Homo sapiens: one gene and its partners. The protein of the gene in region 2 interacts with the protein of the main gene of each other region in a pairwise test. Each region holds a gene or a part of one and is shown on either strand. Other genes may lie near its edges.

The links. The genes of interacting proteins can lie anywhere in the genome.
Region 1: the proteins of ABHD6 (region 2) and FIS1 interact in binary tests that used the Homo sapiens proteins (3 or more experiments, as listed by UniProt).
Region 3: the proteins of ABHD6 (region 2) and RTP2 interact in binary tests that used the Homo sapiens proteins (3 or more experiments, as listed by UniProt).

What each region holds. Positions count from the first base shown.
Region 1 is NC_000007.14:101,238,249-101,243,197, forward strand, and holds the end of FIS1 (mitochondrial fission 1 protein), read right to left. Parts: intron 2,659-4,949; coding exon 2,582-2,658; intron 2,000-2,581; coding exon 1,894-1,999; intron 1,656-1,893; coding exon 1,558-1,655; 3' UTR 1,224-1,557; downstream 1-1,223. UniProt on the Homo sapiens protein: Involved in the fragmentation of the mitochondrial network and its perinuclear clustering. Plays a minor role in the recruitment and association of the fission mediator dynamin-related protein 1 (DNM1L) to the mitochondrial surface and mitochondrial fission.
Region 2 is NC_000003.12:58,288,702-58,295,983, reverse strand, and holds the end of ABHD6 (monoacylglycerol lipase ABHD6), read right to left. Parts: intron 2,399-7,282; coding exon of another isoform or gene 2,396-2,398; coding exon 2,219-2,395; 3' UTR 1,250-2,218; downstream 1-1,249. UniProt on the Homo sapiens protein: Lipase that preferentially hydrolysis medium-chain saturated monoacylglycerols including 2-arachidonoylglycerol. Through 2-arachidonoylglycerol degradation may regulate endocannabinoid signaling pathways.
Region 3 is NC_000003.12:187,698,835-187,707,928, forward strand, and holds the start of RTP2 (receptor-transporting protein 2), read right to left. Parts: upstream 3,724-9,094; 5' UTR 3,295-3,723; coding exon 3,131-3,294; intron 178-3,130; coding exon 1-177. UniProt on the Homo sapiens protein: Specifically promotes functional cell surface expression of olfactory receptors, but not of other GPCRs.

The sequences.
Region 1 (4,949 bases), on a different chromosome or scaffold from region 2:
GAGACCCACAGCTCTGGGCTCCATCCAGCCTGGAATGGAACTCGGCCCCACCATCCATTCACCAGGGAACTCAGGCGGGGAGTTTTAGTCCCCTGAGCTTCTGCTCTGTCAGTGACATACCCGACTGCTTACTGCAGGGGCTGTGGTGAGAACTGGGACCAGGGGCCGGGCGCAGTGGCTCTCGCCTGTAATCCTACCACTTTGGGAGGCTGGGCTGAGACGATTGCTTGAACTCAGGAGTTCAAGACCAGCCTGGGCAACACACTGAGACCTCGTTGGGACCAGGGAGTCAAGCCCCCCACACATAACCAGCGCTTGGCACCGGGAACTGTCCTGGATGTGAGTGTCACAGGGCTGAGGCCACCAGGGAGTCGCTCTCACCCAAAACTCAAATTTCCTCCTAAGTTGATCTTTGACTCAGCATCGAGCCTGGTCCTGCTGGCCAACAGCCTGGAGCGTGATCCTGTGGCTAAGCTCTGCAACCTGTTCCCAGTTATCAGGGACTGTCACCCACTCTATTCGTTAATGATGATGGATTAGCAGCCTCTGGTCCCCATCCCGAGCCAGTGCAGAGCACCTGTCCCAGAGCAGACACTCTCATCTCCTGCTCCGGTTCCCTAGGGCTCTGTCCCTGGGGGCCATCAGCGCTGGCTGCGCACCTCCCTGGCCCCACGGCCCTGCTGGGCTTCTCCGGCCTCCCCTCAGGTGTCTCCTCCCTACTCCTGTGCTGGCCTGGGCTGTGGAACGAGAGGTATGCGGTGAAGCAAAACAGGCCCATGCCGAGCCTGGCACGAGGGGGCGAAGCTGGCTAGGTGGGGCTGAGTCCTGACCTTCCAGCCCACAGGCGAGAGCTGGGGCTCCCTGGGCTCTGACCTCTCCCGGGACCCCCGCCTACTCCATGCCAGATGCAGGATTCCTTCCCCTACTGGGCTCCCCCTCCCCCAGAGGAGGAGGTAGGAGGAAGGGGAGGCCACAGGAAGACAAAGGGAGGGGAGGGTGGGGAGGAGGAAGCCAAGGGGGCCTGCTGTGGAAAACTCCACAGAAGTAGCTGAGTGGGTCAGAGGAGAATGCAGGCCTGAAGCCCGGCCTGGCCCCGAAGTTCTGCCCGCCCATGCTCAGGTCACTGCCTTCTCCCAGGACTCTGGGACCATGGAAAAGCCCCATGTCTCCGAGCTGCCCGGCACTCTCAAGGACATGGCTTCAGGAAAGGGAGGAAGGAAGGGTGTGGGCTCTGGGCTGCGGGGTGGACAAAGAACCCCGTGCCAACCTGGAGGGCAGGGGCAGGAGAGGACCAGGAGTGACGTCTCCGCCCCCTGTGCCCAGCGTTCAGAACCCACCCCTCCCCTCAACGCAGACACGGGGGTTCCCAAGCCACAGCCCCGTTTTATTTACACTCATCCCAAAGCACATGATGGGGCTGAAGGACGAATCTCAGGGGAGCAGAAATTAGCTGAAGGCCACAGAGGATAGAGACGGGGGGCAGGGGGAGAACAGGGAAAGGACAGCGAGGATGGACAGGCCCTCCTGGAGCGTTCTCCGTGGGCTCCCGCGTCTCCTTCAGGATTTGGACTTGGACACAGCAAGTCCGATGAGTCCGGCCAGTCCCGCCACACCCAGGGCCATGCCTCCCACGATGGCCATGCCCACGAGTCCATCTGGGGAAGGAAAGGGACAGTGTCAGGAGCCCGGCCCCTGCGGAAACCCTGACCGTCCCCTTCCGCCAGCCCTGCCCCTCAACAGAGGCACACCCCTACCTGGAGTCGCAGGGCAAGGGGCTCTAAGAACTGGAAGGGGTGGGGCTGAGGGGCTGCCTGGAGGGGTTCATTTACAGAGAGACCAAAGTGCCCAGGCGTGGGGAAGAGCGGGGCTGAACAAAGGGGCCGAGGCTGTCACCTTTCTTCATGGCCTTGTCAATGAGCCGCTCCAGTTCCTTGGCCTGGTTGTTCTGGGGCTCTGTCTGCAGCAACCCGCGGACGTACTTTAAGGCCTTCTCGTATTCCTGCGCTCGGGGAAACGCGCACGCGTCATACACACCGCAGTGTTTTTTTGTTTGTTTGTTTTTTAATAAGAGACGGGGTCTTGCTCTGTTGCCCACGCTGGACGGCAGCGTCGCAATCACAGCCCACTGCAACCTCAAACTCCCAGGCTCAAGCAGTCCTCCCGCCTCAGCCTCCTGAGTAGCCGGGATTACAGGCGTGAGCCACTGGGCCGGCTACACCTCAGTATCCACCACTCCCCCTGCCCACGTGAAGGGCCTTCCCTTCTTCAGCCCTGGGGGCTCCTCCCTCGACCTCCACCCACTCCCTCCCTCCAGCCCCACCCCACGGAGTAGAGTCCACAAACAACCCCAACTCTGCGGGAGATAACAGCGCAAGGCTTGGGCCTGCACCCAGTCTCTTGACGTCACCTTCCTCCCCACCCCCTCGCCACTCTGATCTTCCCTCGGAGTCCTCATCTGACACCGCTCTGCACCTCTGCACCCCTTCAGCCTTCCCGCTGTCCAGGGCTCCACCCTGGAGGACACAGTAAGAAGGTCCTGCAGCCCCAGAGGAGGGTGAAGGGAACGGGGTCCCCACCTCACCTTGAGCCGGTAGTTCCCCACGGCCAGGTAGAAGACGTAATCCCGCTGTTCCTCCTTGCTCCCTTTGGGCAGCAGCTCTGGGGAGGGGCAGAGAAGAGGGTGAGAAATGCTTCTTTCCTAATACTTTCCTAATACTGTGTCCCAGAGGCCCCTTCCACTCTCTGAATGCCTCTGTGATCCTGGGAGGGTCACAGTCCTAAGCCTCCCTTTCAGCTCCAGTCACTCCCAGCACCCTAGCCAGAGCTCTGGGACAGGGTGAACCCCAGCTGTGCCAACACCCCAGTGACAGAACATGCCTTTTATCAGTATTACAGTCAACTGGTCCATCCAACTGAAATGAGGAAATCGGGGCCCTGGAGAAGCCAAAGGCAGCGTGACTCAGTTTTGGCATCTGCTGTGGTATTTTTTTTCAGACGGAGTTTCACTCGTCGCCCAGGCTGCGGTGCAATGGCGTGATCTCGGCTCACTGCAACCTTCGCCTCCTGGGTTCAAGCGATTCTCCTGCCTCGGTTTCCCGAGCAGCTGGAATTACAGGTGCCCGCCACCACGCCTGGCTAATTTTTGTATTTTCAGTAGAGATGGAGTTTCACCATGTTGGCCAGGCTGGTCTCAAACTCCTGACCTCAAGTGATCTGCCTGCCCTGGCCTCCCAAAGTGCTGCCGTTGTGGTTTTAACTAAACTGCCTGCTGTACAATTATTGTTTAAAAAAAAAAAAGTTAGGACTCCCTCCCCCTTTAAAAAAATCAGCTCAAAACTCACCTTCAATCAGCCTTCCCCGAAGACCCCACCTGACTTTGTCTTCCTTCCTTTTTTTTTTTTTTTTTTTTTTTTTTAAAGAGACAGGGTGGGCCGTGAGCCGTAGCTCATGACTATAATCCCAGCACTTTGGGAAGCTGAGCCGGGCGGATCACCTGAGGTCGGGAGTTTGAGACCAGCCTGACCAACATGGAGAAACCCCGTCTCTACTAAAAATACAAAATTAGCCGGGCGTGTTGGCACATGCCTGTAATCCCAGCTGTTCGGGAGGCTGGGGCAGCAGAATTGCTTGAATGCGGTAGGCAGAGGTTGCGGTGAGCCAAGATTGCACCATTGCACACTCAGTCTCGGGAAAAAAAAAACAAAAAACGGAGACAGGGTCTCGCTCTGTCACTCCAGTCTGGAGCACAGTAGCATGTCCATGGCTCACTGCAGCCTCAAACTCCTGGGGTCAGTGATCCTCCTGCCTCAGCCTCCCAAGTAGCTGGGACTATAAGCACACACCACCATGCCTGGCTAATTTAAACATCTTTGTTACACAGACAGGCCAGGTGGTCTCAAATTCCTGACTTCAAGCCATCCTCTGGCCTTGGCCTCCCAAAGTGCTGAGATTACAGGCATGAGCCACAGTGCCTGGCCCCACCTGACTTTCTTAATTCAGAGACTTCCCAGAGGATAACTGTACTGTATGCACTAGAATTTGTTGCTAAATAATTCTGCAGGTGTTTATAAATCTTCCTGTCTGTACTGTTTTCTCAACTAGACTGGCAACACTTAGAGAGGCTGTTTCTTCTACACCTACACCCTGCTGTAGAATAAACCTGAAAATCTGAATTGCCGAAGTAGACAAACATAGGGTAAAATTATTTGTATCTTTTAAGAAAGAGTCTTATTTTTATAGTTTTTTTTTTTTTTTTTTTGAGACGGAGTCTCACTGTGTTGCCCAGGCTGGAGTGCAATGGCGTGATCTTGGCTCACTGCAACCTCTGTCTCCCGAGTTCAAGTGATTCTCCTGCCTCAGCCTACTGCGTAGCTGGGATTAAAGGTGTGCGCCACCAGGCCCAGCTAATTTTTGTATTTTTAGTAGAGACAGGGTTTCACCATGTTGATTAGGCTGGTCTCGAACCCCTGACCTCGTGATCCGCCTGCCCTGGCCTCCCAAGGTGCTGGGATTACAGGTGTGAGCCACTGTGCCTGGCCATTTTTATAGATTTTCAATAGGCATCCTTTGCTAACACAGTCAGCATTCTGTATTCATAGATTCAACGAACCATGGATCAAAAATACTCAGAAAAAAAAAAAAGATAGTTGCATCTGTATTGAACATGAACAGACCTTTTTTTCTTGCCATTATTCCCTAAACAATACAGTATACTATTTACACAGCATTTACATTGTATTTGGTATTATAAGTAATCTACAGATGATTTAAAGTATATGGGAGAAGGTGCACAGGTTACATGTAAATACCATGCGATTTTATATACGGGACTTGGGTGGCTATTGGTATCTGTGGGGGTGGGGTTCCTAGAACCAATCCCCCATGGCTACAGAGGGATGGCTGTACACTGACTGTGTGCTTATAAATGATTATTTGAACACAAGGAGCTA
Region 2 (7,282 bases):
CTGAGGTACTTATCCCAGGTCTGGGGCTTCCTCATTGATCCTGAGGAAACCATCTCTCATCACCTAGGCCCACCAACACTGAACCCCTCTCCCACTATGCTCAGAATTCTTGGTGAATATAGGAAATTGGAACAAATAAAATGTCTAATATCTACTTTCTTTTCTACTTCATTGATTTTTGTTTTTGTCTGTGTTTCTTCCCTCTAATTTGCTCTGGCTTTGATACTATTTATTTTCTCATTTCTTGAGCTAGAAGCTTAATTTATTGATTTTTCTTTCCTTTTTTCTTTTTATATAAGAGATGGGGTCTTGCCATGTTGCCCAGGCTGGTCTCAAACTCCTGGGCTCAAGCAGTCCTCCCGCCTTGGCCTCCCAAGGTGTTGAAACTACAGGTGTGAGCTACTCCACCTAGCCTCTTCCCTTCTAATATACGTATTGAAGCCTATGAATTTCCCTCTGAGGCACTGCTTTAGCTGCAGCCCAGCTTGATGTCATATTTTCATATCTTCTTCTTGTTTTTAAGCTCTAAGTTCCATTCTTCTCTGGTAAACTGAAATATTCAAACACAGTCCTGAATTCAGATTTAAACTGTAAAGTTTATCTCACTTTATTCCCAGAATGACTTGGCTGTAGATTTTCTGTAAAAAAAAAATTGGAAAGAGTGAAGCTCCTGGGGAGTTTAGGGCTCCTAAATCCTACAGAAAGAGTCAAAAAGAATATTTTGATGACTCTTGCCTTTTTTGATATACAATTTCCAGTGAATTATTATTATATTATTTTGAGATGGATTTTTGCGCTTATTGCCCAGGCTGGAGTGCAATGGCACAATCTCGGCTCACTGTAACCTCCGCCTCCCGGGTTCAAGCGATTCTCATGCCTCAGGCTCCCAGGTAGCTGGGATTACAGGTGTGTCCCACCACGCCCAGATAATTTTTGCATTTTTAGTAGAGATAAGATTTTGCCATGTTGGCCAGGTTGGTCTTGAACTCCTGGCCTCAAGCAATCGACCCACCTCGGCCTTCTCAAGTGCTGGGATTACAGGCATGAGCCACTGCACCTGGCCTTTGATATACAATTTCAACTGGATAAAAATTGCAAACATGATTCCTTAAACCTAATAAATCATCCATGCAAAGACTTCCAAAGCCTGTTAAACAAGCCTTATTTTAAAAAACACATTTTAAAGTTAACAGAAAATCTGCCAACATTGCACCTAATTAGGAGTTCAGAAATAGAAACCACCTGCATGTTGCTGATCTAGACTTATTAAATTTATTTCATGTCATTGTGGTCACTTTTACAGCTGTTTAGACTTATTTTCAATCACATTACTCTTCACAGAATTCACAGAATTCATTAACTAACTAGTATGTTACATCCAAGGGTTCTTAGTAGCACATTGAAATAGAAAAGAGGCCCACGAGTTGTTGCTTGTGTGTGGAACCTGAGTCTGATTACTTAGACAGATGTCTAGAACATTATTGCTTTATTAGGCCTATTTTTAAAAATAATAAATTATTCCTAGGAAACCCACCCTGCCAGGTGCTCATTCTGCGACTGCTGTGGGTTCACTCAGAACATACCTGACTGGTGGGTGCTGAATGAACCTCCCACCCATGTACCCTGCTGCTCCGGACGCTCTGAGGGCTAGAGCAATGCCCCTCCATGCGTGTAAACATTTTCTACAGCTTGCCACTTTCCTCCCTGGTCTTGCAGCCAATGGGCTGCAGTCATACATGGGTCTCTATGTAAAACTTAAATTAGACCTAAACAACAGGGTTCAGCGAATGAGGACTAATGCTCCTATAAAAGCCACTGCCCATGCAAGGGAATACACCTGATGCAACAAAAATATCTTGAGTCTCCAACTATAAGGAATGTCTCAAAGAAAATGTCCTTGATTTAATTATGGTCCAAGGTGGCTGCTTTGCACAAGCTTCTCAGTGACATGAACTTGAAGACTTCATGGTAGATTTCATGGCTGGGGTTTCTTATTTTGTTCCATATGAGTTTCTATTTTGTGAAAAATATCTTGGAGGTTTTCGCGTGGTCCCCAAAGCTCTGGGGAACCGTGGATACCAGGGATAAGGGACGGGCTTCCTCAGGGTCACTGGCGCTCCGACCGCATTTGGGGCAGGATCCCTGAGAGTGGTGGCTGCGTCAGACTTGGGGGATGGGAGCAGATGCTGTGTGCAGAATGCAGGCTGCAGTCGGGGCCTCAGTCCAGCTTCTTGTTGTTGTCTGTGTTGTGCACAGAAGCTAAAAAGTCGATTATGAGCTTGGCTGTCTTCCTGGGTCTTTCCATCACTACTGAGTGCCCACAGTTTTCCAGAAGCTCCACCTGGCAGTTGGCAATTGACTTGGCCAACATGTCTGCCCCAGACACATCCAGCACCTGCTGGGCAAGAAAGGGAGCTGGATGATACACAAAGATTCAGACACCCACGTGTGCACTCTGTGGACAGAACTTCCACCAAGGCCTGGCAGGGGTCAGTGGGGCAGGAGGATGTGAATTTTAGGACCAAGTCCCTTTGGTGTTGGGGCTTGTGGCTGTCTGAATGGAAGTAACCATGATGCCTCCTGTTTTATTCTGCAACTCTGTGCCAGGAGTTGGGCTGATGTCAGCAATACTGAGGTAGAAAACAAACGTTCCTTGCCCTTGAGGAGGTTATGGTATGGTGGGGAAGTCAGAGAGCACAGGGGATGAGCAGGGTCGAGGGAAGACCTCGTTCCTGAGTCCCGGGAGAGCAGAAAGGGGACAGGGGAGGAGCATTCACGGATGTGGGAATGGCACAGGGTGGGAGATCATGGCGAGTGCAGGGGCCACCAAGGAGCACGGCGGCTGAGACACCAAGCACATGGGCAGTGGGGGTGGCATGGTGGGGAGAAGGGGCAGAGAGGAGGGCGCTGCTCCTACAGCCACACGGACCATGGGGAACCACAGGCTGTGTTAAGGTGAGTGACTTGATCAGGCTGGCCCTGTGGCTGGTTAGGGCAGCCCAAGCTGTAGGAAGGATGCAAGAGGGGAAGGCTAATTATCACAAGCTGGGGGTATCTCTTTATTTGTTGAAAAGGAGTTTCACTCTTTCGCCCAGGCTGGAATGAAGTGGCGTGATCTCAACTCACTGCAACCTCCGCCTCCCAGGTTCAAGTGATCTTCTGCCTCAGCCTCCCCAGTAGCTGGGATTATAGGTGCCCGCCACCATGCCCAGCTAATTTTTGTATTTCTAGTAGAGATGGGGTTTCACCACGTTGGCCAGGCTGGTCTCGAACTCCTGACCTCAGGTGATCCACCTGCCTCAGCCTCCCAAAGTGCTAGGATTACAGGCCTGAGCCACCGCACCCAGCTGGAGGTCTCTTTGAAGGTCCTCTGGGGATCCCCAGAGCTGTGTGTTTCTTGGCTCTAACCTCTGCAGATATGGGGAATGCTTTTCCAACATGAAAGCCAGAACTTTTCCAGGGCTGATCCTTTTCAAACAACTCATTTCCTCTCCTTTTCCTCTGGGTTCCCAGCTACTATGCCAATCCACCTCCATCTTTTTCCCCAACATCCTCCCTCAGAAGTGGATCCGCATTCACTCCCCTTCTCTTAGCTGCCTTTACCTTCAATTCATCCTAGACAAGAGGGCCCCTCCTCCCCATCCTTAACGGCAAAAGCAAAAGCCCCAACAAACTCAAGCACCTTCTGTGTCTTTGCTCTATTCTCACCAACTCAAATTATTAAAACCAAGATTTTCTGCCCACTGGGGAGTTAAGGTAAGACGATGCCTCAGTCAAGGAAAAGAGTCCTGCAGGGCATCCCTGGACCAGGAAAAGGAACAGCTAATGGGGAGCTTAACAGCTAATTCCAGCCAAGGAAATGGAAACCTCTGCCTTGTCACTCACTCACAGCTAAGGCTGCCACGGCAACCCACTGAGCAGGAATAACACCCAGCTACTGTGGAAACACTCAGAAGAAACGCAGATGCAGTCAATAGGTGAAAACAGCATGAAAAAGTGGAAACTCCCAACTGAGTGTCTTTTTTTGTTTTTTTGAGACAGGGTCTCGCTCTGTTGCACAGGCTGGAGTGCAGTGGCACGATCATGGCTCACTGCAGCCTTGACCTCCCGGGCTCAAGTGATCCTCCCACCTCAGTGCCCCCCAGGTAGCTGGGATGACAGGTACGCACCATCATGCCCAGGCAAAACTGAGTGTCTATCCTGGAGAGATATCAGAAACCACAACTCACAGGCAAAAATACCCATATGAGCTGCTGGCTTTGGCACTGTTTGCTGGTTAGCGTTACAAATCCATCATTCTCCATGGCCACCCAGAGGTATGTGCAACTACTGAACGACCCCCTGATGAGATATGCACATCTGTGGGAACCATTTCAGCGATTTCCTAGATAGAATATTCATATAAATGGTCAAAAACTTTTCCTGGGCTGGGTGTGGTGGCTCACACCTATAATATCAGCACTCTGGGAGGCCGAGGTGGGAAGATCTCTTGAACCCAGGAGTTCGAGACCAGCCTGGCCAACATAGTAAGACCTCATCTCTACAAAAAATAAAAAATTGCTCTCCCTCTCCCTCTCCCTCTCCCTCTCCCCACGGTCTCCCTCTCCCTCTCTTTCCAGGGTCTCCCTCTGATGCCGAGCCGAAGCTGGACTGTACTGCTGCCATCTCGGCTCACTGCAACCTCCCTGCCTGATTCTCCTGCCTCAGCCTGCCGAGTGCCTGCGATTGCAGGTGCACACTGCCACGCCTGACTGGTTTTCGTATTTTTTTGGTGGAGACGGGTTTCACTGTGTTGGCCAGGCTGGTCTCCAGCTCCTAACCGCGAGTGATCCGCCAGCCTCGGCCTCCGGAGGTGCCGGGATTGCAGACGGTGTCTGGTTCACTCAGTGCTCAATGGTGCCCAGGCTGGAGTGCAGTGGTGTGATCTCGGCTCGCTACAACCTCCACCTCCCAGCCGCCTGCCTTGGCCTCCCAAAGTGCCCAGAGTGCAGCCTCTGCCCGGCCGCCACCCCATCTAGGAAGCGAGGAGCGTCTCTGCCTGGCCGCCCATCGTCTGGGATGTGAGGAGCCCCTCTGCCTGGCTGCCCAGTCTGGAAAGTGAGGAGCGTCTCTGCCCGGCCGCCATCCCATCTAGGAAGTGAGGAGCGCCTCTTCCCGGCCGCCATCCCATCTAGGAAGTGAGGAGCGTCTCTGCCCGGCCGCCCATTGTCTGAGATGTGGAGAGCGCCTTTGCCCCGCCGGCCCGTCTGGGATGTGAGGAGCGCCTCTGCCCGGCCGCGACCCCGTCTGGGAGGTGAGAAGCGTCTCTGCCCAGCCGCCCCATCTGAGAAGGGAGGAGACCCTCCGCCCGGCAACCGCCCTGTCTGAGAAGTGAGGAGCCCCTCCGCCCGGCAGCCACCCCGTCTGGGAAGTGAGGAGCCTCTCCGCCTGGCAGCCGACCCGTCCGGGAGGGAGGTGGGGGGTCAGCCCCTGCCAGGCCAGCCGCCCCGTCCGGGAGGGAGGTGGGGGGGTCAGCCCCCCGCCCGGCCAGCCGCCCCATCCGGTAGGTGAGGGGCGCCTCTGCCCAGCCGCCCCTACTGGGAAGTGAGGAGCCCCTCTGCCCGGCCAGCCGCTCCATCCGGGAGGAAGGTGGGGGGTCAGCCCCCGCCAGGCCAGCCGCCCCGTCCGGGAGGGAGGTGGGGGGGGTCAGCCCCCCGCCCGGCCAGCCGCCCCGTCTGGGAGGTGAGGGGCGCCTCTGCCCAGCCGCCCCTACTGGGAAGTGAGGAGCCCCTCTGCCCAGCCAGCCGCCCCGTCCGGGAGGGAGGTGGGGGGGTCAGCCCCCCGCCCGGCCAGCCGCCCCGTCCGGGAGGTGAGGGGCGCCTCTGCCCGGCCGCCCCTACTGGGAAGTGAGGAGCCTCTCTGCCCGGCCAGCCGCCCCGTCCGGGAGGGAGGTGGGGATGTCAGCCCCCCGCCCGGCCAGCCGCCCCGTCCGGGAGGGAGGTGGGGGGGTCAGCCCCCCGCCCGGCCAGCCGCCTCGTCCGGGAGGTGAGGGGCGCCTCTGCCCGGCCGCCCCTACTGGGAAGTGAGGAGCCCCTCTGCCCGGCCAGCCACCCCGTCCGGGAGGGAGGTGGGGGGGTCAGCCCCCTACCCGGCCAGCCGCCCTGTCCGGGTGGTGAGGGGCGCCTCTGCCTGGCCGCCCCTACTGGGAAGTGAGGAGCCCCTCTGCCCAGCCACCACCCCGTCTGGGAGGTGTGCCCAACAGCTCATTGAGAATAGGCCATGATGACAATGGTGGTTTTGTGGAATAGAAAGGGGGGAAAGGTGGGGAAAAGATTGAGAAATCGGATGGTTGCCGTGTCTGTGTAGAAAGAGGTAGACATGGGAGACTTTTCATTTTGTTCTGTACTAAGAAAGATTCTTCTGCCTTGGGATCCTGTTGATCTGTGACCTTACCCCGCAACCCTGTGCTCTCTGAAACATGTGCTGTGTCCACTCAGGGTTAAATGGATTAAGGGCAGTGCAAGATGTGCTTTGTTAAACAGATGCCTGAAGGCAGCATGCTCGTTAAGAGTCATCACCACTCCCTAATCTCAAGTACCCAGGGACACAAACACTGCGGAAGGCCTCAGGGTCCTCTGCCTAGGAAAACCAGAGACCTTTGTTCACTTGTTTATCTGGTGACCTTCCCTCCACTATTGTCCTATGACCCTGCCAAATCCCCCTCTGTGAGAAACACCCAAGAATGATCAATAAAAAAAATAAAAAAATAAAAAAAATAAAAAATTACCCGGGTGTGGTGGCACATGCCTGTAGTCCCAGCTGCCTGGGAGGCTGAGGTGGGAGCATTGCTTGAGCTCAGGAGGTTGAGGCTGCAGTGAGCTATGATTGAGCCACTGCATTCTAGCCTGGGTGACAGAGCAAGAACCAGTCTCAGAACAAACAAACAAACAACCCCCCTGCCCAACAAAAAACAAAAATCAAAACCTTTTCCTGCATTGCTTCACACCAGGGCTAAAACTATGGTGAGGCAAATGAGGCATTTGCCTAAGGCACAAAATTTAAGTGCCAAAAAACTCATAAATTAAGAGAAAATATTTTAGTGCAGTATGTTAAAAAAAACATTAATGGAAAAAGGCACATGATGAACAAAATATCAAAATCATAAATACAGACAGGATCTGACCCTGCACCTGCATGACACATCTCTCTCATCTCACCCTTGTCTCGGGCCTGTTATGCACTATAAGGGTAGGTAGACGATAAATTGCTGGAGGGCAGGGATCCTGGCTGTCTTGGTCCCTAC
Region 3 (9,094 bases), about 130 Mb from region 2:
ATGTTCTCCTCCAGCATGCTGGACTCGTCCAGCCGCGCCGTGCCGCACTCATAGCACAGCTGCTTGAAGACGCGCATGCGCACCGAGCCCGCCCGCTGGGCGCGGTCCAGGAACATGTGGAAGAGGATGACCACATGGGCAGACTGCCAGGTGTGCCAGCACCAGGAGCAGTGGAACCTGCCGGGAGGAGAAGGAGGGGTGGAGAAGGTGGGCATCCCAGAGAAGCCTGCCCTGAGAAGCTCTGAGAGGGAAAAAAAAGCCTGTGTGCCCGTGCTTGGAGATGGAGGCAGTGTTTACTGCCCTGTGGATTCATTAGCACTCCAAGGCCGGCCTGCTCTCGCCTCCTCCTGGTGAGCACCCCTGGGACCCGAGCAGCATCCTCAGGAGCCAGTGCCGGAGCCATCTGGCATCCAGCAGTGCTCTAGAGCGTGCCTCCTGCGGTCTCAGCTGCCCCCCAGCCCGATGCACTCAAGGTTGCACCTGGGCGCTGTGCAGGGTCATCCCCCCCTCTCTGGGCTTCATTTCTCATTTGTGAAATGTAGTGTGTTGGCGTCCAGTAAGGGTCCTTCCTCTGTGACCTCCTGCGACTCTAATAAGAAGGATGACATACACCATCTAACTCATGCATCTTGCTTACTTTGGGGAGAAGAGACGCCTCTAACTGTGCCAAGCACAGACCCTGGCACACTGTAGGTCCTCAGTAAACCACTGAGAATGATGGGATGGACAGACCGGTAGATGGGTAGGATCAACTGGCTTTTAGGAGGAACTACCAAGTTTAGTTACTACATCTTCACAAAGAACACTCCCCAGTCTCTTGACAAGTCTTCTCTAGATCCCACTCTAGCCCTGCAGTGGGGACTGGAAAAGAGGGTATTCATTCCCATTGCCACTCCACACACACACACACACACACACACACACACACACACACACACACACACACACATATATTTTCTCTCTCTCTCTTACATGCACAGAGGCCACTTGGCGTAACCTGGGCTTTCTAGAGTCCCAGTCTCAGGAAGTGTTGTGGGTGGTAGCCTGGGGCTCATCTAGGCAAGCCCCACTCACTCCGCCCCCACCACTGCCTGCACACTTTCAGTGATGCAGCACTCCTGACCTCCAGGGCAGTTCTTTCCTTCCCTGAGATGAGCCTCTTCCAGGCCTCTGTTATAGAGGCTTCACAGGCAGTCAGATGTCCACTGGGCTGTCCCTGTCCTCATCACTGGCCCTTTCTGGATCCATTGTATGATGGCCTTGAAGGACTTCTGATTAGGAACTCAATTCAATCCAACAGACACCATTCAACACCTCCCATATGCCAAGCACCACTCAACCCAGGCTATGGGATAGAGGTGAGGCCAAGCCTGGCTCTGACCCCTGAAAGCCTGATCACATGAGCATAGAACAGTACCCAGAATGGCCCAAGGTGGGGTTGGCAGGTCAGAGGAACCTAGCTGGTACTGAACCAGGAGAGGTTCCCCGCCCCCAGTGCTGGGTGAGAGCTGCAGGGCATCTGCCTGTTTAGAGACAGAGTGAGCCTGTGCACAAATAAGCTCATGGGCAGCAGTTCTTCAGCTCTTCCTGAGGCCAGCTGGGAGCCACAAGTCACCAGCCAGGAGTAAGAGGAGCTGACCTCTGAAGCAAGAGGAGACATGAGCTTGCTGAGCTCAGCCCCGAAACTCTGGATCCTGGGCACTCAAGTTTCCAGGCATCTGCACCTCTTCCACCAGGCAGTTCAAATGCTTTATGTTTTCAGTCTCCTTCTACACCTTTTTACATCAAACCAACCCAGAATTGCTTCACCTACATCAAGTTAGGCCTCACATCTTAAATTCAAAAATATCAGATCTGGGGGCAGGCGAGCTTAAGAAGCATCTAGTCAGCCCTTTATTTCACTGAGAAGAGACAGAAGCCCAGATAGTAAGAGAGGCATCCATGTACACACAGCTAGTTAGAGGCAGAGCCAGTGCTCAGCACATAACAGGTACCCAATAGATGCTTCTTGAGTTGATGGAACTGACATGAATCAGCCAACCTCTGGTTTTCTGTCTTTTTTTCACAAGGCAGGTTTACTCCAATAATTCCAGGTCTTGGGACAAGAGTACAAACGTAAGCTCCCTACCCACATCTTGCCTCCTCTGTTCCCACCCTCAGCACCATTCTGCACCATGAGAAGCTTCACACACATACACGTGAACAACCCAGCCTTTGTGTCCATGTTCTGGCTACATCTCCAGAGCACAGCCACTTACTGGCCTCTCTTGAATCCAAGGACACAGGAAAAAGGCCTGCACAGACACTACAGATGGACTTGAGGTAGTCTGGGGAGGAATTTCTGTAGTCCCAGTCCCCAATCATGATCTAAAAGGAGGAAAGGCATGTGGACTTTAGACGGCCTCGTCCCCTTGGCCTCAAGGACTCTTTGCCCTGTGGTAGATGTGCAGCTCCTATAAAGAGTGGGACCCTGGGCTCTAAGTTCCTAAAGAAAGTTTTGCTCAAAGCTAAATCTTTTTATCACAGGTGCATAGATAATAGAGCTAGAGTGGATTGGATCTATTATCTAAGACCAACCCCCTCATTTTGTAAATATAAAAACTGAGAGCCAGAAAGGGAAACAGACTTGCCAAGTTTACAAGGCTACTTAGCTATATAGAGCCAGTTCGTAGCACACAGCAGGTGGTCAATAAATGTTTATGTATTCAGATCAAATTGGATTAATTCACTAAACATATCTAGGAACAGAGCATAGCTGTACCCCCTGCATTCCCCCAACTCCTAGATTAAAACTTTCCCCAATGGACCTCATGGCCTCCTTCCTTCAGTTCCAACTCACTCTAAATGTCAGAGATTGCAGGGACATAGATGATATTACAGCTCTTCATTTAATGTGGACAACTAAGACCCAAAGATGGAACATAACTTTCTCAGGGTCACCCAGGGAGTTAGTGGTATTGCTAGGATTAAAAGCAAGAACTCTCTGACCCAGCCGGCTGTCTTTGTCTTTTTCCCCATCTGAGCTGACACCAGAATAAGCCCGCGACTGGGCTCTGTCTCTCCTTGGAAAGTACCCCACAGCTGTGACCCAGGGGCTGTCTGCAAGGTCCCTCCCCACTGAACCTCTCACCTGCCTGAGGCGTGCTGCTCCAGGTACTGCTTCCAGCCAGGGGCCAGCTCACTGGGCTTGAGGTTGGGGTCTATGATGAGCTCCCAGCTGTCCGCTGGCTTTGCCACCTCCATCTTCTCATAGAAGACTTTCTTCCACTCACAAGTGGTCAAGCTGGTACACATGGTCCTGCTGGCAGAGGTGGCAGTTCGAGCTCAGCCCTGGTGAGAACACAGAAAGAGCACGGATAGGTACGGGACAATTCAGTGTCTACGGTCAGAATCCTCATCGGCAGGACTGGGAGTAAACAGGACCCAGCTCCCTCCTCTGTTACCCTGGAACCTGTTACCATGGTAGCCAGGCAGGGCACCAAGAGTGAGGGCTGGGGAGAAGGGAAGCCCCAAGGGGGAGTTTCAGGGCCCTGAGTTAGGCTTCAGAGGCAGCGCTGGGTAGGCCTGAGAGGAGCAAGCACAGTGGGAGGCCCAACCTCAGACCACACTCATCTGGATTTCCAGAGGTCTCCAGGAGGCAAGGACTATTTGGTGGCCCTGCTTCACCCAACTGCTCTTCTAGCATTCTCCACATCATGTGCTATGGTAAGTACGACACCCTAGGAAGTCAAGGAGAAATGAGGGACAGGGAAAGGCAGAGCCTGCTGCTTCCACACCCCCTGATATGCTGTGACCATCACTTACCATGTGCCTAGCACAAACCGCTTGACCTGTGTGCTGGCCAAAGCAGATCAGATCAGGAAACTGAAGTTTATGCAACCCCTAAGTGGCTCATCCAAGATTCAGATCTAGGCCTTCTGAAACCGAGCTCATTTGTTTATTTATTTTAGTACTATTGTGCTCCTAACAGGGAATTGAGTGAGAAGTAACATCTCTTTGCCCAGGGCAATCTTAGACCAGTTGGTGAGCTAGAATGTAATTTCATATGCCATGCAAAGCACAGTAATAACATTTCAGATTCATAGCGTCATAGAACTGTTAGAGCCCATATTCAGTTCCTGGTCCCAAGCCAGGCTAAGGTGGCTGCTGGGGTAATGAGTTTGTTCTGTGCTGCAGGCTCCTGCTGCCTCCATTACTGCTGAGCTGGAGCAAGAGAGCATCCGTAGCTCTGTGATGCCCAATTCAAATTCTTTAGAAACCAGAGGGGAATCTGACTTCAAATTTGGTAATCCAAGTGAAGACACGGTTACCTGAAGGGAGGCTGCCTTGAGCATGGAAAAGACCAGGCATATGGCTGCTTACCCTAGCTTTGGTCCAACTTCCAACTGTAATCATCTTACGATTCTTTAACCCGGAAGTCTGGATCCCTAGACACGCAGAGTTCCAACAGTAAAGAGCTTCAAGAAGTGAAACAGGTTGCTAAGAACCGGAAGCTCTTGGTGTTGAGTTGCCAAGTGGTTTTCAGGAAGTGTGAAGTCAGGGACAATGTCACTGGATTCTCTCTTGAAATGAAAAGTGTTACTCTAGCGGCTTTGTGCTAAAGACCTCAGAAAGGACACAATTGTCTTTGAACCATTGACTGACAGCTCTAGAAGAGCTCTTTTATTTTTAAAAATCTGGTTTATTTCTTGAACTCTTCATTTCTTAACCAAAATTTATTGACATTGAATTAAAACAACTGAGGCCTGGAAATGGAAAATTACTGGCCCAGGCTCTCAGGACTGGGTAGCTCAAACCTCACTGGGGATTCCCTTAGAAGCCAGTTACCAGACCAGGTGAGACAGAGGGATCCATGAATGGCCAGGAACTGAACGAAGCTGAGATGAGCTTATGGCCTGGCCTAGACCCTCGTGCCAGGAAAGAACCTCTGAGAAATAGTATACCCTTGTTCCCAGAACAAATGGCAATAAAGGAAAAACAGAAAGAGGATGAGAATTGTCAGGGTTTACCTGTATTTTCTTTTTTCCTCAAATAATGCAATCCCCTTAGGCCTAGTATCAGGTTTAATTTAGCATAGCAGCTTCTAAGCAGAGACCAATAGAATTCATCTTTCTGTGTAACAGCACTGTTTTCACTTTTCATACAATCAGTGAGCACAATTACTACTTCAATTTTCCGCGAATGACACTATCTTATTCCAGAACCCACGATTTAAGAGCTCACAAATGTATATTGTGTACAGCTGTGGCCACATCACACTCTGGCAGCTTCATTATACATATTTTGTCTAGGCAATACTTTTTCAAATAAAGAAATTGTTATTTCTTTATAAAATAAAATACTGAGCACCTGTATTCTGCAAACAAATCAGCAAGGGGGAGGGGATGGATAAAAGAATCACTTTTCCCCTTCAATTTGGAATGCAAGTTAATGAAGAGCTTTGTAAAATATTTATTATTCAATTTTACTTATTAGAGTAATGTAAGAAATGCCAGTGTGGAGCTTAAAATGACAAAGTAATGAAGAGTTGAAAAGGTGTGTACATCAAAATCACCTGGAGAGTTCTGAAAACTGTATACACCTCTGCTTCAGAGATTTCAATACATGTTCTTGAGGAGACAAATTTGCTCTCCACCTACTCCAGTCCTGGGAAGAATCCCTTCTATTGCCAGCCATTGTTACTGATGGGATATGTTGTCCCACAGGCTACTGGAGGCCAAAAATGAAAAACAAAAAAAGAAGATTGAGTAAAATGAGCTAGTGGTTTATAATATTTCTTTACCAGGAAATAGATCCAGGACAAATGCAAGGTGTGTCCTATCTTCTCCTGTGTCTCCGCAATTCAAAGAACCGTAGACGATGCTATAGGGCGAATCCAAGATCCCCTGGGGAGTATTTTCAAGAGATATTAGGAAGGCCTCTCCATCCCCAGGATGTAGCACTTAGCGACAGCATGGTCCAAGCTCCCACTCTTTGGGTGGGAGCTGACCTCTGAATCTCAGGGGAGGCCACACAGAGCAGTCCATGGCTCTCTAATAGTGGCACATAGTGGAATCTTCCCAGGAAGATTTTACGCTGCCCTTTTATTAATTGGCAGCAACCAGAGCAACTGCAGGCAAGTGACATTCTGTTTCTGCTGGTGTCCAAGGGCCCAAATTCTGTGCACCATGCTTCCCAGCACCCCAAAGGCTCTGGAATCTGTATTAAGAGTGACTATATCTACTTATCCTTTTTTCCGGGTCTTATTATCCTAGATAGAGATTTGGTGACGAATCTATTATGGGATGTAAATACATAAAAAGACAGATAGAAATAGGGTGTGCTCCATGCAAGGGAGAAAAAAAAAAGATAGGGGTTGAGTTAGGAAGGAAGAATATAGAGGGTCTGGGGACACTTTCAGCAGGTACAGCCTATGCTGCTTCTGTCCAAGAGGCTGAGGGCCTTCATCAGAGTTCCTTAGCTATACTCAGAGAACCTGCTAGTTTCTGTTGAGCTGAGGCTCAACACACACAAAAATAGCCATGACTCATCTCTGGGACACTCCTAGCCATCAAGGCAGGGTGAAAAGGGAGCATGGGATAGATTGTGCTGGCTTTTAAAGCATCCATTCTAAAAATGACAAGGCTGGGGTCAATATCCTGGGCAGACTTTTAAAAATATATATCTTTCCTTTTAAACACACATTTACCCAGTAGAACATTTGTAGTTCCAGGGCTTTCCAGGAGACACCAATTCACATAAGGAAAGGACCCATTAAAGCTGAGTCCATTCCTGAGGCAAGTCTCTCACGATAAATAGAACGAATTTTACCTTGAGTATCTATCTTTAGGAAACAGGTCACCTTCCAAAGACTGATGGGGATTCCTTGATGAGCAGTCAGAAAGGCTGTTTGGCCCCAACACTTAGCTCAGTTAACTTCCTTGGAGACTTTACATTCCCAGAATTGACTATGTACTTCAATTTACATGGGAGTGAGAAGGGAAAGGACTAATACACTCATTAGTATTGTATTTACCCTTAAGGCTGGATACTGACTTTACCCTTTTTCTTATCCAAAAATCAAGATAAAATTGTTCAAGTGCATAAAATTGGACAAACATTACATAGATATTGCATAAACAGGCAGTTAAAAGCCCCCAGTAAAGATTTAAACAGACCACTTAGCTCTGACATTGGAACCAGAAGATACACAGTCAATAGGAGTCACAGGCCCAAAATGATCAGGCTTTGCTTAGAGTTAAGTTAAATATGCTAGAAACACTTCAATTTATTTCCCCAGTTGTCAAACAATTGGAAAGAGCATAACTACACACTATAAAAATGCTTTCTTACTCCCAAGGATAAGGCAGGTAGGTTTTATAGTAAAACAAAGCATATGAGACGCAGATCTTACATGAGATGTAAAACAAATATGTTAAACGAAGATGTTTTACATGAGATGTAAAACAAAGCATATGAGATGCAGATCTTTATATTTCTCAGTAAATTTGAGCTTTCTTGATATATGCTTATAGACACTATAGTTAAAAAGCTACATTTCTTGCAAAGTCCCAAGGTAAATATAAGTAAAGCTTGGGAAGAGAGAATTCTACAAGAAAACCCACTGACCAGAATAAAAAGAATTTTAAAACAGAAAGATCCCTTGATTAGTGAAACAAGAAAATGGCCACAACTACAAGCCAGAACAATTATAGTTAAATTTGGATATAGAGTGGGAGCACATGAAGAACCAATGCATGCCTCACTTCATCTCACGCAGAGTGAATATTTCTTTTCTTTTTTTTTCTTGGGACAGTCTCACTACGTCAAGCAAGTTGGAGTGCAATGGCGTGATCTCGGCTCACTGCAGCCTCTGCCTCCTGAGTTCAAGCGATTCTCCTGCCTCAGCCTCCTGAGTAGCTGGGATCACAGACGTGCACCAGCACACCTGGCTGATTTTTGTATTTTTAGTAGAGATGGGGTTTCACCATGTTGGCCAGGCTGGTCTCGAACTCCTGACGTCGTGATCCACCCACGTCGGCCTCCCCAAGTGCTGGGATTACAGGCATGAGCCACTGTGCCTGGCCAGAGTGAACATTTCTTTAAACATGACCCACCCCAGTAGCAATGAGCACACCTACCACACACATCTGGGTTCCTAATACCATTCTCCAGTTAAAATAACAACAACAAACTAGGTCTTCTTGGAAAAATTATATGAAGGCTCATTCATTCCTATGTCTGGAGGTTGATGCTGCCTGTGAGATGGGACCACAGCTAGGTCTATGGGCCAAAACATCTACACATGGCCTTTCTATGGAGCCTGGGCTTCCTCACAGGATGCTGGCTGAGTTCCAAGGGCTGGTGTCACAAGAGAATCAGGCAGAAGCTGTGCTTCCTTTTATGAGCTACCCTCAAAAGTCACAAGGCAACACTTTCACCATTGCCCAGATTCAAGGTAAAGGAGCATAGACCCCACATTTGGATAGGAGGAAAGTCAAAGCTATGTTGTAAGAAGATGCAAGTCGGGAGATACCAATGTGATCGTCTTTGGAAAACATGCATTGTCACAGCAGGTAGGGAAGTCAATAAGGCTTCCACAGAAGGAGTGGTATGTGAATAAACCCTTACAGGATGACCAATTGGCAGTTAAATAAAAAAAATGTTAAAGGGGTGCTTTTCCCTAAGGAGGGGAAAGCATGGGCAAAGACTTAGAAAATGAAATGACATAGAATCATTCTTGAGACTCCATATCATTTAGGACATCTGGATCACACAGAAGAGTGATGGAAGTTGAGGCCTGAAAGATACATGGGACCTGGATTATGGAGTTTTTAACACCCTGGCAAAGTTGAGATTTTGCCTTAGAGGGGACGTGAAATTACTAAATCGTTTTAGGCCTGAACTACATGATCCTATTTGCATATCAACAATGTGCTATTTAAACGCATTGCTCTCTCTTCCTTTTCCCCATAAATTGGCTGATGTCTAAAAATGCTGTTTCCATGACACACTTGCCGTGAATTCTAATCTGCTTAGCTCCTTGCAAATCTAGATCCCTCTGTAGGAGGTGTGAAAAGGACCTTCACTCCATTAACCAAAAGTGTTCTCTAGG